3 linked regions of the Homo sapiens genome follow. The protein of the gene in region 2 interacts with the protein of the main gene of each other region in a pairwise test. Each region holds a gene or a part of one and is shown on either strand. Other genes may lie near its edges. The genes, in order: PRKCZ, PARD6G and PARD3.

Region 1 (7,120 bases), on a different chromosome or scaffold from region 2:
CCCCACTTCTCGCTGGAAGCCGAGACTCTCGCCCCCTATGCTAAGCACTGCCAAACCTCTATTCAGCCCCACTTCTCACTGGAAGCCAAGACTCTCGCCCCAACTGCCCACTCACCCTCTTGGCCTGAATCTGCTCCCACCCCCAGTTCCCGCCCAACACAGGGCACTGCCAACACCCAGCATCCAGCCTGAGGCCAGCGAGGTGTGTGCCCTGGCAGCAGGGGTGGGGGAAGCCCTGCCTGAAGGGCACTGAGCCACGTGCCCTGCGCTGGACAGGCAGCGGCCTCGGTCCAGGAGCTCCTGCCCACACAACGAACAAGGCATGGCACGGATGCTGGAGGCCGTGTGGGGTCTGGAGAGTGGGGGTGGAACCCCACCAAGCACAGCCATGGGATGCGCGGCCCGAGAGCAGCGTAGCCACCTGCTCAGGGCCCAACAGTCTCCGGGATGCAGTAGGAAGTGAGGTCAGAAGCTTCCCTCTGAAGCCACAGCCCCCGGGACTCACTCTCCTTCCTCTCCCAACAATGGAGCCAGTGTGGGATGAACGGAGCCCCCACACCAGCTCAGGGGCCAGCAGGGACCAGGAGGAGCAGACGACTGGCCTAGGGGTGGTCGTGAGCTGAGGCAGCCACAAAGGAGCAGTGTCCAGCCTCCCACCTGGCCCCTCCCTCCTAGGGAGACGGCAGGGCACCCCTGGACTTCTCATGCTACCAACCAGCCAAGCGAGTCCCCCGCCATGTGGTGCTGTCAGCCAGAACACGCACAGGCAGCAGCTGCAGTGAAAACCCCACCTGCGGTCACCACGGCTGCTCCTGCCCTGACGCTCCACGAGGGTGAACCTCCGAAAACGGCACCACTGCCACCTCCGTGGCACAACGGATCAACAGTTCAACCCCGTAACATGCGAGACCGGCGTAGGAAACCCCAGTACTCACTGTCTTCTCCCGGACATGGCAGGCCAGGCTGCTCAGGGGTGCTCGGGAAAACTGGACAAGAGAGAGAAAGAGACAGCGTCAAGACCCTGCGGCTGCCACTCAACAGTCTCACGGAGGAAGTCCCGCCTCAGTCAGGCTGAGCACGTGGACTTCACGCAAGGCGCACGTGGCACTGCCAATGAGAGCCCGCTCCTGGGAGACGCAAAACCCCGTGCGTCTACGTAGGCCAGGCTCCGACTTTAAAACCCACGGAAAAACTTAGAGTAAAAGGCAATCAGAGGGACCTGGACAGCAAAGCCATCAGAGGAAGCTACTGATTTGTATTTTTAAACTATATAAAAATGGGAAAGAAATGCAATTACTTTGAACACTGACTTTTAAAAGCACTTTAGATTCCACTTCTTCATACTCAAGACAGAGTTCAAAATTATTTTAACATATATCCTGGGCTTCCACAATAAATTATTAAAATAGGTGCTTAGAAAGTATTAAAACTTGGCTGGACATGATGGCTCACGCCTGCAATCCCAGCACTTTGGGAGGCCGAGATGAGAGGATGGCTTCAGGCCAGGAGTTCAAGACCAGCCTGGCCAACATGACGAAACCCCATCTCTACTTTTTTATGTGTGTGTGTATACACATAAAAGTATTGAAACTTTAAAAAAACAAACATTTTTTGTTTTTTGTTGGTTTTTTTCAGATGGAGTCTCACTCTGTGCCCAGGCTGGAGCTCAGTGGCACAATCTCAGCTCACTGCAACCTCCACCTCTCGGGTTCCAGCAGTTCTCCTGCCTCAGCCTCCCAAGTAGCTGGGATTACAAGTGTACACCACCACGCCCGGCTAATTTTTGTATTTATAGTAGAGATGGGGTTTCACCATGTTGGTCAGGCTGGTCTTGAACTCCTGACCTCAAGTGATCCACCTGCCTCGGCCTCCCAAAGTGCTGGGATTACAAGTGTGTGCCACTGAACCCAGCCCTATTTTTCTTTTATCTAGAAAACAATGTGAATTTTTAAGCCACTGTATCTTTCCACATAGAGAGGCAAAATGTGCTTACTATCACAACCACAATAAAAAGGACTAGATTAGGCACATCTATGAATTTATTTATCTGACACAGGGTTTCGCCCCATCACTCAGGCTAGAGTGCAGTGGAATAATCACAGTTCACTGTAGCCTCTACCTCCTGTGCTCAAGGAATCCTCCCACCTCAGCCTCCCGAGTAACTGGGACTACAGGTGCACCACCACGTCTGAATATCAAAAAAAAAAAAAAAAAAAAAAATTGGGGCCGGGCACCGTGGCTCACGCCTGTAATCCCAACACTTCAGGAAGCTGAGGCAGGCAGATCACCTAAGGTCAGGAGTTTGAGAACAGCCTGGCCAACATGGCGAGACCCCATCTCTACTAAAAATACAAAAATTAGGCCGGGCACCGTGGCTCACGCCTGTAATCCCAGCACTTTGGGAGGCTGAGGCGGGTGGATCACGAGGTCAGGAGATCGAGACCATCTTGGCTAACATGGTGAAACTCCGTCTCTACTAAAAATACAAAACATTAGCCAGGCGTGATGACACATGCCTGTAGTCCCAGCTACTTGGGAGGGTGAGGCAGAAGAATTGCTTGAACCCGGGAGGCGGAGGTTGCATTGAGCTGAGATCGCGTCACTGCACTCCAGCCTGGGCGACAGAGCGAGACTCCAACTAAAAAAAAAAAAAAATTAGCCAAGTGTGGTGGCACATGCCTGTAGTCCCAGCTACTCGGGAGGCTGAGGCAGGACAATCGCTTATATCTGGGAGGTGGAGGTTGCAGTGAACAGAGATAGTGCCACTGCACTCCAGCCTGGGGACAGAGCCAGACTCTGTCTCAAAAAAATAAAACAAGTTTTGGAGAGGGGGGGGTCTCACTATGTTGCCCAGGTTGGTCTTGAACTCCTAGGCTGAAGCGATCCTCCCACCTTGACCTCCCAAAGTGCTGGGATTACAGTTGTGAGCCACCGCACCCGGCCTAGTCTTTAAATTTAGAGCCTCATTGATATAAAGGGCGAAGAAAATTAAGTGTTGTAACCAGGTAGCCCGGTGTCCAGGAGAATGATGGATCTGTCAGAAATCCATGGGTGGTTTCGAGCTTTGGTCCCATCTTGGACTCAATCGTCCATGGCCAGACGCCTGGCAAGGAGCCCAAGCTACGCCAGAAGTGGACACAGAGACAAAGACGTGACCGGCTGGCCACAGCGCTGGAACCACATTCCCAGGCCCCAGACGCCCTGCAGACCCCCAGCAGTACCGGGGAGGAGCCCACGCCCACCTAAAGACAAAGTGGAAATGATCACAATCACATCTCCCATGCGTCAGCTCATCATGGGGCTTTGAACTTAAAGCTGAGGACAGCTGTGAGCCTGGAGCCGGGCCTAGGGAGCACCGGGCAGGTGAGGTGGCTGGTGGGGCTGTCCCCTCTGTCCACATGCGCCGCGGGCCCTACGCTGGCCACTGGAGCCTCTGAGTGGTTTACGGGTTCTTTGTTAAGAGCAGTTTTCATTTGGGTTAATAAAATGTCAAAGAAAAGGCCGGGCGCGGTGGCTCACATCTGTAATCCCAGCACTTTGGGAGGCTGAGGCAGGCAGATCACGAGGTCAGGAGACTGAGACCATCCTGGCTAACACGGTGAAACCCCGTCTCTACAAAAAATACAAAAAATTAGCCGGGCGTGGTGGCGGGCGCCTGTAGTCCCAGCTACTCGGGAGGCTGAGGCAGGAGAATGGCATGAACCCAGGAGGCGGAGCTTGCAGTGAGCTGAGATTGTGCCACTGCACTCCAGCCTGGGCAACAGAGCAAGACTCCGTCTCAAAAAAAAAAAAAAAAAGTCAAAGAAAAAAACCCAAATGGCATTATATTAGACATCCCTAAATTCTCTGGCATCATAGGATTTTAAACCATTTTAAATCCCCCAGCTAGTCGGCAGACACCCACAGCCAGGAACAGCCCCCCAGAGCTGCCCACCACAGACCCCGCCACTAACCATGAATGATGAGGCCTTCATCCCTGCACTGACGGGCCAGGCGGAAAGCCTCTTCCAGCTCCATCTGGGAGGACACCGTGCAAGGGTCACCTGGGTGGGGCAGGAGACGGTGCTGACGTCGCCGAAGGCCCGAGGCAAAGGGGGCTGTGACGAGCCCGCTCAGCACACCAGACAAGGGTCTGGTGGGGGGCAAAGTCCCGATGCTCAGACTGGCCACCTCCTGGCAGGGTCGGGAGGTCCAAGGACGGCCGTCCACACTAGGGAGTCACCTGGCCCCCGGTGCAGCGTCAGAGCCACCCCGGAAGGGAAGTCAGTACACCTGCAGCCCTGGGCACCACTTGGAGGGCTAAGCAGTGAGCGGGGCTGAGGACACTCTCCGGAGGTCAGTCCTGGGCGGAGGGAGAGCTCCTTGCCCTCTATGGCTGGAAAGGGACATGGAGGTGTACAGAACCCAGGCCCTGCAGGGCTGTACCCAACCCAACGGGGGCGCTATCAGGCTCCACCCGCACGGCCGTGTCCTTGGCCAAGAGCTGCCCGCCAGTCCCTGGGAGAAAGGGGTCTCTCTGGACGTCTCCCAATCCCCTTGTTTTTCAGGATGTGTCTAAGAGACAGGAGGTGGACACGGCAGGCCCTGGCTGCTTGTGCCCTCCCCGTGGTCCCTAGAATATGAAGAGCCCATCCTTTCAGAAGCACCTACCGAAAAAGGCCAGGACATGAGAAAGGAGGTCAGAGGAAGAGGTGAGGACCTGCCCAGGGTGGGGCAGGGAGACCCCCTGCAGGCAGTTCAAGACCAGAGCCCTTCCTAGGGGCATCTGGGCCCAGGTCCTTGATAAGCATCTGTGGCCAACCTCTTTCCCACCATCCCCACTGGGGAAAAGTTGGCGCCAACAAGTTTAATTCCACAGCTTTAAGTCTCCCCACAGAATTGGCTGAGCACACTCCGCACACAGAGGCTGCCCTGGCGAAGTCCCCTGAGGCTGAGGATTCTGGCCAACATGGGACAAGGGCTACCTTCGCTGTCCACCCACTTGAGGGTGAGCGGGTGCTGCTGGTGCAGACGACACATGTCTCTCACTTCCTCACAGAGCTCCTCGAAGGTCGTGGCGGCGTCCACGCTGGTGATGAAGATGTCCCTGGGGCAGAGGGGACATGGGCATCTGTTACCGTGGGGCATATTTGAATCAAATTAAAAAATGATTACCAACTAACCAAATCATTGATTAGATAAATGAAACTTTCCCCAAAGACAATATGACAGCCCCACCCCCTCCCCCCTCCCACACACAAAATAGAACCATTAACCATAACCATAGTTTAAAAAATGGCCACCATTGCCAAGCACAGTGCCTGACACCTGTCATCCCAGCACTTTGGGAGGCCGAGGCGGGTGGATCACGAGGTCAGGAGATCGAGACCATCCTGGCTAACACGGTGAAACCCCGTCTCTACTAAAAATACAAAAAATTAGCCAGGCGCGGTGGCGGGCGCCTGTAGTCCCAGCTACTCGGGAGGCTGAGGCAAGAGAATGGCGTGAACCCGGGAGGCGGAGCTTGCAGCGAGCCGAGATCGCGCCACTGCAGTCCAGCCTGGGCGACAGAGAGAGACTCCGTATTAAAAAAAAAAAAAAAAAAATGACCACCATCAACTTCCTTGCACAGAGAAAAAAGCGCGACCTACCTGGCTGGAAAGAATGAGGACAAAATGGGAGAAAAGAAAGTGCCCTCTTGTGGGAGGTCCGGCAACGTTACCTGGTCGGGCACTCGTTCAAGTTCACCCAAATGTGGGTGACCCCGGGATGGGCGCGAGCCGGGTCGGTGCAGGCCGCCGGCTTCACTAAGGTAAAGGAAACCAGTCAGACCTGCCCCCAGACCTCGACGGTGCCAGCGGTGAAGTGGCGGGGATTAAATAATTCCATAATGAAAGGCCACTCTTTAGACCCCGGAGTGGGCACTGGGTCCGTTGCTGCAGCCACGGCAGAAGCCCCGGCAGATTTTTTTTTTTTTAAAACCGAGTCACACAGAGTCAGTGTGTTTTATCTTTTCAGCCCCAGACAGGACCTGAACTCCAGGGGCTGGGGAAGCTCACGGACTCCCAGGCACCCTTTGAAGGCTGGCACTTCCCTGCTGATAGGGACCCGAGGTCCCCCCTCACCTCCTGCACTGAGCAAGAGCTGGTCTCACCCTGCGTGGAGGGGAGGGACCACCACAGGGCCCAGCTGGTGTTTCCTGAAACTCAGAGCGGGAATCACACCCTTGTGAACACACTGAATTTTCAGAAAAATCTACGGCTTTCTGACACCCACAAGAGCGCGGGGCAAGAGCACAGGGCCTATAAAAAGAAGCCTGAAGGGGTGTGAGATGTCCCAACCAGAGATACAGGCTCTGCTCTTCGCTGACACTGCTGGCTCCCCATCAAGGTTATCTGAATTCATCAGACAAGTTTCAAGAAACAAAGTTCTCATCCCAGACAAGAACTCCAGTGCAAACAGAACACAGGATCGGTCCACAGCCGCGGCCCTGACACAGCAGCCCAGGGCCCACCTGCCCCACAGGCCTCACCCAGTCACCCTGGGCCACCTGGGCCTGGGGGACAGACGCCCCAGCTACCCACCCCTTCCTGCTGGAACTGGCCACCCAGCACCTGCCCCCAGTGCCCAAGCACCCCACAGGAACCAACCTGGCTGGTCTTCGCCACAGCCCACAGCATCATGGCAGATTAGGAAAGTAAGGAATGGAGGGGGGTCACACACCCATCACCCTGGGGTCGCCCCAAGCTGACATCCACGCCTGCTGCCTGACCTGGAGTCCAAAAGTCTGACCACCAGGAACTCCAGAGTGGGAGTCGGCCATCACTTCACCTTTGACCTCTTCCTGCCCCACGCCCCTACCCCTACAGTCCTGCCTCCAGTGGAAGCCAGTTTCCGGCCAATCTAGAGGCCAGGTGGGTGGCTCCAGTAAAACCCCAGGGCTTGGGAAGTGTCAGGCCACCACCTCCAACCCTATCCCAATCCTGAATCAAACAGCTGCCCTGTGCCCTTCAGCAGGGGCGTCCAGGACTCAGCACCCAGCAGCCAGCTGGGCCGCCCGGGAGAGACTCCTGCGTCTCTGTTGGCCTCAGCACCAAGCCCTGGGCTTTGCACACAGAAGCTCCCTGAACACAAACGTTGT
Region 2 (7,120 bases):
CGGGGACCAGGTCCACATCGATGATGGATGATACGGGGCGGAAGTCGCGCGGGAGGCCGATGTCCAGGTGTGCACGCCGCCGGGGTCCTTCATCACGCAGCGCGCCCAGCGCCCGCCTCCGCCTGCACAGCGAGCCCGCGCCGAGGCTGCCACGCTCGGCCTCCTCTGCGGGAGAGGGGACAGTTAGAGGGGACACACAACCGAGCCCCGCCTGAGCCCTCGGCCGTCATACACCTGGCACTGCTGTTCCATCTGCGTGACGCCGAAGCACCCAGGGTGCACAGGAGCATTCCAGACCTGCAGGCTGAGCTGAAATCAGGCAAGCTCAAGTGCAGCCCCTAAAATTAACTCTCTAGCACTCTCCTTACAGCTCCACAGGCACCAAACCAAAGAACTCAGAGATTAAAAGGTGCTAGCAGGCAGCTGCAGCAGAGAGAATCAATGGCAGTGGAGGGTTTAGGGCTTGGAGGGCTGGCGAGTGCCTCAGCCTTCTGGGAGGCAGCAGGCTGGACTGGGGACTTCTTAAGCTTTGCCCATTCTCCCATATTTCCTTCTCTCAACTGTAAGACGGAGGCTCGTTTTTTTCTAAGGTTAATTACAACTAAGAGAGACCTTTCCTGCTTTCTTCTTTTCTATGCGCAAGCCCCACCACAGTGTCTTCTAGCCAGCATTCAAGGCCCCTGAATGTGTCACTCAGTCGGGCGTGTGAGCATTTCCCTGCGTTTTTGGTTAGCAGCTGATGAGGGGAGATGAGTAGAGGAAGGAGTGGGATCAGAGGATGGCTGCTTCCCTTCTGTGAGGTCCCGCACAGTCAGTGCTATTTGTAGGCACATGGAGCCTCAAGGCTCACCAATATGCCCAGCCTCCCATGGGGGCTGTGCAGCTCTCTTCCTCAGGTCTCCCAGGGACCCTGTGGGATCCGCCTGCCCACACCTGCCAGCCTGTGGCATGACACATTTGTGGCAGTGTGTAAACTTTACCCTAAAGTTGGGCTACTGCAAAATAAAATGAAAGTCCACTGAATTAATCAAGCAGAAACGTAAGGAGCTTAGTCTAAAGTAAAAATTTTAAGTGAAGAGACTGGTGGCATTTGGAAACTCTGAATAATGCATTTTCCTCATGTCAGAAAAAAAATCTTGTTTCATTAATTTTTATATGAAACCTCTTGTTCTTGACACACACGACTCTGTAAGACAGGCGTCTCGGGGAGCAGAGGGAAGGGCTTGCTCTGTGAGGCTTGGTCCTGTGGAGTTGGTGGCATCCACAGCAGCCTGCTCTTTGGGCTGGGGAGGCTCACATCTTTGCTTTGCCAGTGAAAGCCAGTAGGACCGGGAGCCCAGGCAGAAGCAATGCCATAAACAGGCGCTCCTCAGAGCAGAGACCTCCAGGCTCCAGGGGTCAGTCTGGCTTCTGCATTTCAGTGAGCAGGCAGGGCCCATTATGACTTGCTTTGGAGATGGGGAATGCTGGTTGACAGTTCTGGAAAGGACTCGAAGACAAATTACTTCCACCATGGAGGCAACATTCAGGCAGCTTGGAGAGGAGGCCAATGCTCAGGCATCACATCTCTCAACCCAGCAGAGCCCATGGCTGCCTAGACAACGAGAAGGCCCTAGCACAGGCTCTGGCACATGCTCCAGGCAGCAGGGTTAATGCACCCTGGAGCCGGGATGCCCCAGCATGAGGACTGTCTTCCTGGGAGCTGGCATCCTGGCCAGCACTCAACACATGCTGCTCAGTGACGGAACCCATCCGTCATCAGTTATCAGCATAATTTATTACCCACTGACACAGTAAGGTCTGGAAGGACTTTTGAAATAAGATGACTTTTAAAAACTATACCTGTAAACCCTGTTTACCCTGACGTGATTATTATGCATTGTATGCCTGTATCAAAATCTCATGTAACCCATAAATATATATACCTAATATGTACCCACAAAAATAAAAAAATAAAATGACACTTGTAATACTTCTTCCCAGCTGTGACCACCGGGGCTGGGTGTGCATGTCTGTCAAGTCCTTTCTTGCACACTCACACGTACATGTGGCTATGGTTGTGCTTGTTTTATAGAAATGGGATCTTGGTTCCTGGCCAGCACCCGGCCTCTCTGCACCTCATAGACACTGCAAATCCTTACTCAGTGACTTCAGGGATACAGGTGAGTGGATAAAGTCCCTGCCCTGAAGTAGCCATGAAGCGAGTGGGAGAGATACAGACTGAATTTTACATACAGCTACATGGAGAACACCGTGAGACTGGATGTGCACAGGATATGATAGGAACAGTGCGGGGGCATCTGGGGAGGTGGCAGTTATGCTGCCCGGGGTGTGGGGATCAACAACACAAAGTTCAAGAGAAGACGCCGGAGGGTGAGTGGCACAGAGCTCCTCTTCCCGTGATGAGGAGAGACTACCTGTAGAGTCCATCTGGTCTGGCTGCTGCCGCAGGTTTGGACTAACCAAGGGCCTGGGACAGAGTGGGCTCTCCCTGGACTAAAAGCTAAACCTCACTGAAGGCATCTGCCTCATGATTGCTCATTCTAAGTGGGAGGGACTGTGGATCCATGGGGCCGCAGATGGAAGTGTGGCAGTGTCCGAGGCACAGTGCTCTGCCTGCTTTCCATGATACGGGCTCTTCCCAAGGGGTCTCCTTGGATGACAAATCTATGCACTTTCAAGAAGGCAACCCCTCTGGCAAACTCATGCCTGCAAGAACATTGTGGTGCAGGTGGCCATCCACATGCTCCTCCTTGAGGACAGGCCCTATGCTCAGGCCCTGTGCTCAGAGCCACGAGCAGCAGGGCCCAGGAGAAGAGACTAAGGTTTTATGCAGGGCAGGTGAGGCCTGAGATGCTGAGGGTAGGGGAGTAAGAAATGGTGTGTGTCCATGTGTGAAACAGCCTGGCCGCCTGTCCCACACACGGGCAGAGTACAGTGAGGCTTGGCCCGGGAGAGGTGACACCTACTGTTCCAAGCATCCTCTTTCTCTCTACCACTGACTCACAGAGTTTGAGGTTCAATTTCACCTCCCTCTGAGAGCCGCTTGTCTTCAAGTCCCAGTTCACAGCCACCCATCCCGGGAGCCCCACCCCTGTTCCGCATGGTGCATTCCCTTCCACCAAAACCACAAACCTGTCTGCGTCACAAGGGCCAGGTGGAAGCATCTCGGCCATCCCCACAGGGCAGCAAGTGCTCTGGCCGTGGTGCACGGTGGACTGGATTGAGGCTCAAGCCCAGAACTGTAGGATACAGAGAAGGGCACAGCGGGCCGGGCCCCTCCTCGTAAGGGGCTTATAAATCACTTAGGTAGACCAGGGTTCCCTGCACCAATAAAAGCAAGTGTGTGGACCTCTGCTTCCCAGAAGTCATGTAGTTCTTCCCATCCCTCCTAAGTTCAACAAAAACCCTGGATGTTACATACAAAACAACAAATATAAGATGACGCAGGAGAGAAGTCGCACTAGCTGGGGCCTCAGGACCGGAGAAGCAACATGGCAGCAGCTCCTTGGGTTTTCTTTTAGCCTTGTCATCCCAGACTTGGAGCTGAAGGCACCAGCAACCTGGATGCACCAACAGGCATAGACCAAAAAGCCCCATCAAAAGTCTGCTCTGTCTGTACAAAGATCAGAAAGAGGCAGCCTAAAAGGACGGAACACGTGTGGACAATAACTACCCCACCTGCTGCACCCCACACACAGAGCCTGGACCCTCACCTCCTCAAGGCTAGAATGGGTGCCCAACAGCCCCTGGCTCTGGTGCCAGAGAGACTAAGCAGGGAGTGAGGACCTGGCCTTTGTATTTTGTCCATGGGCCCCACAGTCTTGAGTGGGCCTCTCCTCCCTCAAAACACTTAGGGGCCATCCTAACAGCCCCTCCTCCTGGCCAAGTCCCAACTACTGCAAATCCCTCCCCTGCACTCCAAACCCTCCAACCTGTGAGGGGCGTTGCCTCTGTGATGTGCTCTCCATGTGTCTAAAAGGCTCCAGCTTTTAACTTTCATGGTTGGGTGTTTCCACCGGGTCCACACTGCTCTTCACGTCACAACTGAATGTCATGCCCATAGTAAGAGGATGAAACTGGGGGGTCCTGGGCCTTCAAGGACTTGAGCAGAGGGGAGCCTTGTTTACCCACCTAACAATAATGTAAAATATAATCCTAGCCAACCTCAAATTAAACCTTTTGAAGATATGTAATGGGGGAACCTGCCCCCAATATTTCAACGTAGGTTCTATTTTCCATAAATGTCAGCCAGCTGAGCAAGAGAAAGAGTACAAAGAGAGGAATTTTACAGCTGGGCCACCAGGGATGACATCACCTATCGGTAGGTCCGTGATGCCCACCTGAGCCTCAAACCAGCAGGTTTTTTATTAAGGGTGTCAAAACGGGAGGGGGTGTAAAACAGGGAGTGGGTACAAAGATCACATGCTTCAAAAGGCAAAAAGCAGACGTACTAATAACGGTCTAACAAAGATCACATGCTTCTGAGGGAACAGGACAAAAGGAAAAAGCGGAACCACTGATAAGCATCCAACAAACACAAGGCAAAGGGCAAAAGCAGAACCACTGATAAGGGTCTATGTTCAGCAGTGCACATATTGTCTTGATAAACATCTTCAACAACAGAAAACAGGGTTCGAGAGCAGAGAACCGGTCTGACCACAAATTTACCAGGGCAGAGTTTCTCCCCACCCTAGTAAGCCTGAAGGTTCTGCAGGAGACCAGGGCGTATCTCAGTCCTTATCTCAATCACATAAGACAGACATTCCCAGAGTGGCCATTTATAGACCTCCCCTAGGAATGCATTCCTTTCCCAGGGTATTAATATTAATATTCCTTGCTAAGAAAAGAATTTAGTGATCTCTCTCCTACTTCCATGTCCATTTATAGGCTCTCTGCAAGAAGAAAAATATGGCTCTTTTTGCCTGACCCTGCAGACAGACCTTATGGTTGTCTTCCCTTGTTCCCTAAAAATCACTGTTATTCTGTTCTTTTTCAAGGTGCACTGATTTCATATTGTTCAAACACATGTTTTACAATTTGTACAGTTAACAAAATTATCACAGTGGTCCTGAGGTGACGTATATCCTCAGCTTACGAAGATAACAGGATTAAGAGATTAAAGACAGGCATAAGAAATTATAAAAGTATTATTTGGGAACTGATAAATGTCCATGAAATCTTCACAATTTATGTTCCTCTGCTGTGGCTCCAGCCAGTCCCTCCATTCAGGGTCCCTGACTTCCCGCAATGGATATGTCTTTGCCTCTAAAATTTTAGTAAAGGTTTGTTTTGAAAAAACATGGTGTTGAACTGTTAACCTCCAGGAAGTTGCCAGAAAACATAATTTATCATTTCCACTGGGTGCGCTGGCTCACACCTGTAATCCCAGCACTTTGGAAGGCCAAGGTGGGTGGATCACCTGAGGTCAGGAGTTCAAAACCAGCCTGACCAACATGGTGAAACCCTGTCTCTATTAAAAATACAAAAATTAGCTGGGCGTTGTGGCATCCACCTGTAATCCCAGCTAGTAGGGAGACTGAGGCAGCAGAATCGCTTCCAGACAGCGGAGGCTGCAGTGAGCTGAGATCGTGCCATTGCACTCCAGCCTGGGCAAGAAGAGCAAAACTCCATCTCAAAAAAAAAAATTATCATTTCCGCTTATTTCCTAACATAGCTACCACTTTGTCACCATTTGGACCTGTAAACAAATGTGACTGTTCCCTTGTATTTTTCCTTCTGAGATGAAGGCAGTCATGTCAGCGGCACACAGCCTCAGCTCATGGACACCGTATGGTCAGGTCGGCACCAACACAGCACACCACCCCAATCATGAGTGTGTTCCTCCTCTCTGCCGCACCCCAAGCAGAACAAAGGCCCAGATGCAGGGCTGCAAGTGTCTCTCTCAGCAGCCCCACTGCATTCTGCTAAGCAGGCGACACAGTCTGGGGCACGTGTGCCATGGCAGACACTGCTGGTGTGACCCTCGGTCATGGGGGCATCAGGACGCCTTGTCTCAGTGGAAAATCTCCACCTCCCTTAGAATTTAAAGGCGTCAAGTTCATTGAAAGCGATCAGTTACAGCCTCCTCCATGGTCAGATCTAGTTGCCCCAAACACAACAGCTCCGTGGCAGCTTTTTTACAGCAGCATTTTCAAGTTTCTGGTAAATGTCCTCTGTAGAGAGCGTCAGACAAGCAGGGGAGGTACGTGCCCCTTTCATCCTGTCCTGGCTCCTTACATCCTCAGAGCACGAGACAGTCCACAGGGTCCTCACTCCCCATGTCCACCTTCCCGGGGAACTTCAGGGGAGTGCATAGCCCTCCCTGCAGACCAGGAAGGTCTGGTCCTCCCCCGACCATAAGGGGGCTGTTCTCACAGAAGTCCCTTCAGGGCCCCTTCTCCACACCACAGCCACCTCTTTTGGGGCCCCACAACTGCAAACACTTGAGGATCCAACAAACCAGAGCCCCCTTTGATCTCAGTCGTGCTGGCCAGACCCTAACATCCCATGCTGACCCCTCTGGCCTTGGCCCTGTGCTCCAAGGGAGTTTCAGCGCATCTAAAGGTGCAGGGCTCCGTGTGTCACCGTATGGAATAATTACCACTTTTCAGGGCAAGACAATGGCCAATCAAAACAGTGACAGTTCACAATTACAAGTGACACCCATTGGGCCTCACAGGTCACATCCCTGCTGTGGGTCCTCTGTTGTGGTTCCTGCCTGAGAGCATCATGTTGCGTGTGGACGTGTGTGCAGGATAACACGTGGGCAGTGTTGTGTGTGGACCTGTGTGCCGGATAACACATGGGCAGTGTTGCGTGTGGACGTGTTGCAGGATAACACATGGGCAGTGTTGTGTGTGGACCCGTGTGCAGGATAACACATGGGCAGTGTTGCGTGTGGATGTGTGTGCAGGATAACACATGGGCAGTGCTGAGGACAGGGCACGGCTCTTCATGCAGCAGCTCACTCAGGGCAGCAAGCTTGGAGCAGGTACTCCTGGGGACAGGGACACAGGCTCAGGGATTCAGGGCCCCGGAATGGCCTGGACAGGGAAGGTCTTTTGTGTAACCCCCATGACAGGCAAGGCAGCAGCAACGCTCCACCATGTTTCCAGAC
Region 3 (3,356 bases), on a different chromosome or scaffold from region 2:
TGGGACTATCATGTCGCTTTCTGCATAATTTTTCATTCATTTAGTTCGAGCTGTACTGGCTCCTTCAATTCAGAACTCCTCAGGCTTCTTCAGGCAGCCTGGGCCTTGCAGTGGACTCATGAAGGTTCTTGTCTCTCCCCTTCCCCTCTCTCCTCAGGTGCTCAAATACGCAATCAACCACCAGTTCCTGTGTTTGCAAACTTCCCACTTTGAGACTTCCAACTGTAAGACTGTATATTGTCTTAATGGACTAAGAGTGAGAATGATGTCATAATGGGGACCATCTTTTCCAAGGGACAGGTGAGTCCCCCCTCTCCATCCTCATCCAAGAGTGGGCCCCAGGGTTCTCCTGCCCCCTTTCCTGCAAACTTTCCTCAGATGTGAGGAAACTTCCAACTTTCTCTAAATATAAAAAAAAAAAAAAAATCACATCTGTTAATAGACCTTTTAAAAAAGCCCAGCTAGGCAAGGCTGCCCAGGAACACCAGAGACACCAAAAGAACAGGAAGAAATATGCCTTTTATTAGGAGTTGCATATGTACAGAGAAAGCTGTTTCTCACAGCTCAGGGGAGGCTGTGAGAAAGAGCCACTGTCATCCAAGGTCACTGCGCGTACACTGGTAACACCACTTAGACACCGCCGCACGTGATTAAGAAACAGAACCATGACACAGAAATGCAGAAGAGACACGGGTACGTGTGTGGACACATCATTTCTAAAAACAAGTCAACACAAAAATACAATGTGCCAATAAAAAAAAAATAGACATATCCATACATGTCTTTTTTTCTGTTTTTAAAGTAAATACATGGTATGCTGAGCTTTCACCTCCAGCTTTTTCCACATCGGGATTCACAGGCACTTTAGCACCCCAGCCATGGTTTACAATACAGGATGTTCAGAACAATGAAGGAAGATGGGAGCCACCGAGATCCCCGAGACCCACACACACACTCTAATACTGACGCGAGAGTGAGCTTCCTGCCACCACCGCTGTGGGACCCGAAAATGTTCTCTGTGTGATGTGTAACGGCTTTTCCTTTGTCTTTTATGTTTCATGGCAGAACTACTTAGGAGCGCGGCATCGCCAGTCAGACATGCAGTGTGTGGATGCATTAGACAAGCATCAATTGCCTCTGACTTGAAAAACCGTAGAGAGCAGATCAAAATGACTGTCTGGTTTATCTCTGTCCCATTCTGTGCCCTTCCTGACAAGCTGTCAGAACAAAAACTAATTAAAATAATTACTAGGATGTACTGGGCCATGAGCTCTTCCTAGGAGAATTTCTTTCTTAGCTCTCCCCTCATGATAGACACAGGGCCAATGGCAGGCCCAGCTTCCCCCGGCAGGAGCCACTCCTGTCTCCCACGTTCCCCACACAGAGCTGTGGTGACTCAACCCACGTGTCAGGAACAGGACCGAACAAGCGTATGTATAAACGCAGACCAGGATCATCACTTTATTGGTAATGTTGAGTCATAAGGCAGTTACAAAAGGACCCCCATGGTGACCAAACAATGTTGGACTATGGCTTAGCTTCTGTAATAGGATGACCGACTCTCCCGTCACAAAGAGCTGAGAAAGGAAAGAGAAAACCACAGTGATGACAAAGTACGACAAATGGCTGTGCTGTGAAGTACCAGAAAGCCCCAATTTTTGGTGTATGTCGCCCACTTTTCCTCCACCAGAGACTAAGATGTCATCCCATAGCTAAGAGAACTTAGAGGGAGAAACAGGGCCGCACGTCATCCTCCACTTCAGGTGAATTTGTCACTGCAAGTGGTGCAGGGATGTTACAACCAAGCCGCGGACAACTCATGAGTAGGGCCGAGATTCCTGGTACTGTGGAGAGGCGCAGAGCATATGAACACCTCAAACAGATGATTGTCACAGGGTGGGAAATCCTTCCATGAAACAGACACTTGAGACATAGTGGCAAAGACATTAAGGCCTTCCATTTCTTTGCCTACACCGCTTAAAGGCACTGATACCAACAACAGAAATACTCCATAGTACCATCGAGGTTTTAAAAAAACTCCCAAAATACAAGTCTTCATAGGAAAATGTCTTTTATTGCGCGACATGAAGCATCCGTTATTTGCGTGCTCAGGAATAGAAGGGCCTCCCTTTCTCAGGAGTCTGAAGTCTGTTCAGCCTCGCAACCTGAGAAGGGGAGGGGGGCACATCTTGCCGGAAGGGCCCCTTGGGAGGGGCGTAACTGGGGTCCTGGACTTTCTTATACGAGTCATAGTTGCTGGGCCCCTCGGAAGGAGGCTGCTTCTTCATCTGCTGCTCCTTCCGCCTCTGTTCCTGGCGAAGGAGCTCCTGAGTTTCCAGCATGACCCTGGCGTTGAAGCCATGTCCTCCCAGGTAGCCGTTCCTGGAGCCTTGGTAGCTGGAGTACCTGGGGTTCTCTTTGGCACTCTGGAAGCCTTCCCCAGGGGAGTAGTTCTGCTCCCAAGAGTCCTGGGAGACCGAGCTGGCATTTTTCCTGCTTTGCCTAGAAAGCAAAACCCAAAGGTTAGTGTGAGGGTAGGAAGAAGGAGGGAGAGGGAGGAAAGGGGGCAGGATGGGATGGAATATGCATTTTCACTTTTCAACAAATATTCCTGTTCTCTCATCACATGCCAGACACTGCGATAGGGGCTGGAGAATTCAAAAATGACTGTCCTCAGCAAGCGCATAGTCTTAGACAACTAAACTAACAACGAGTAAACAGGAGAGAGAACTAGACTGTGCAGCTATTTAGAAACAGGGTCATCCTCCTGTGTCTGAGAAGGTTGTGTCTGTTCTGCTTAGGGTACCAATATCTCCTGCAATTTAGACACACTGGCAAAGTATAGAAGTATTAGAGGTTTGGCAGCTTCCATGGTAGGAATAATTGCTCGCTTTAGAACATTACAATTCAATTCTAAACAAGCACAACAAATATTTTACACAGCTGCCACCATAATGCCAGAAGCGCTAGCTAATATGAAGTACATGTAATGGATTACAGTATGAGTTCGGTTATGAAAGATTTAAGTCTAGACTCCTTTATGATAAAAAATGCAACAGGCAGTCCCTTAAAGCTCTGGCTTTCAAGTTGTGTATGTCAGCAACTTACACTCTCCGGGATACCTGCTCATCCAGATTGGACGGAGAGTCCGGAAGTCTGTAAAGTAAGCACTATTTTCTTATACATTTACCTTCACCAAAGGCCAGGGTGACCTACTTAACTTGCTTTCTGTCACCCCAGGATAGGCAAGTAAATCAGAGTCACATGGAAATTTCAAATTCTTCCCACTTCTGCAACAGAGTTGGGCATGATTTCCAGGAAACATTATTGTTTTGAAACATCTTTAATTTACTATC

Evidence for each region.
Region 1: the proteins of PARD6G (region 2) and PRKCZ interact in binary tests that used the Homo sapiens proteins (3 or more experiments, as listed by UniProt).
Region 3: the proteins of PARD6G (region 2) and PARD3 interact in binary tests that used the Homo sapiens proteins (3 or more experiments, as listed by UniProt).

What each region holds. Positions count from the first base shown.
Region 1 is NC_000001.11:2,053,407-2,060,526, reverse strand, and holds part of PRKCZ (protein kinase C zeta type), read right to left. Parts: intron 5,087-7,120; coding exon 4,965-5,086; intron 4,044-4,964; coding exon 3,954-4,043; intron 987-3,953; coding exon 936-986; intron 1-935. UniProt on the Homo sapiens protein: Calcium- and diacylglycerol-independent serine/threonine-protein kinase that functions in phosphatidylinositol 3-kinase (PI3K) pathway and mitogen-activated protein (MAP) kinase cascade, and is involved in NF-kappa-B activation, mitogenic signaling, cell proliferation, cell polarity, inflammatory response and maintenance of long-term potentiation (LTP).
Region 2 is NC_000018.10:80,160,442-80,167,561, forward strand, and holds part of PARD6G (partitioning defective 6 homolog gamma), read right to left. Parts: intron 2,163-7,120; exon of another isoform or gene 2,075-2,162; intron 166-2,074; coding exon 1-165. UniProt on the Homo sapiens protein: Adapter protein involved in asymmetrical cell division and cell polarization processes. May play a role in the formation of epithelial tight junctions. The PARD6-PARD3 complex links GTP-bound Rho small GTPases to atypical protein kinase C proteins.
Region 3 is NC_000010.11:34,109,061-34,112,416, forward strand, and holds the end of PARD3 (partitioning defective 3 homolog), read right to left. Parts: intron 2,503-3,356; coding exon 2,109-2,502; 3' UTR 501-2,108; downstream 1-500. UniProt on the Homo sapiens protein: Adapter protein involved in asymmetrical cell division and cell polarization processes. Seems to play a central role in the formation of epithelial tight junctions. Targets the phosphatase PTEN to cell junctions.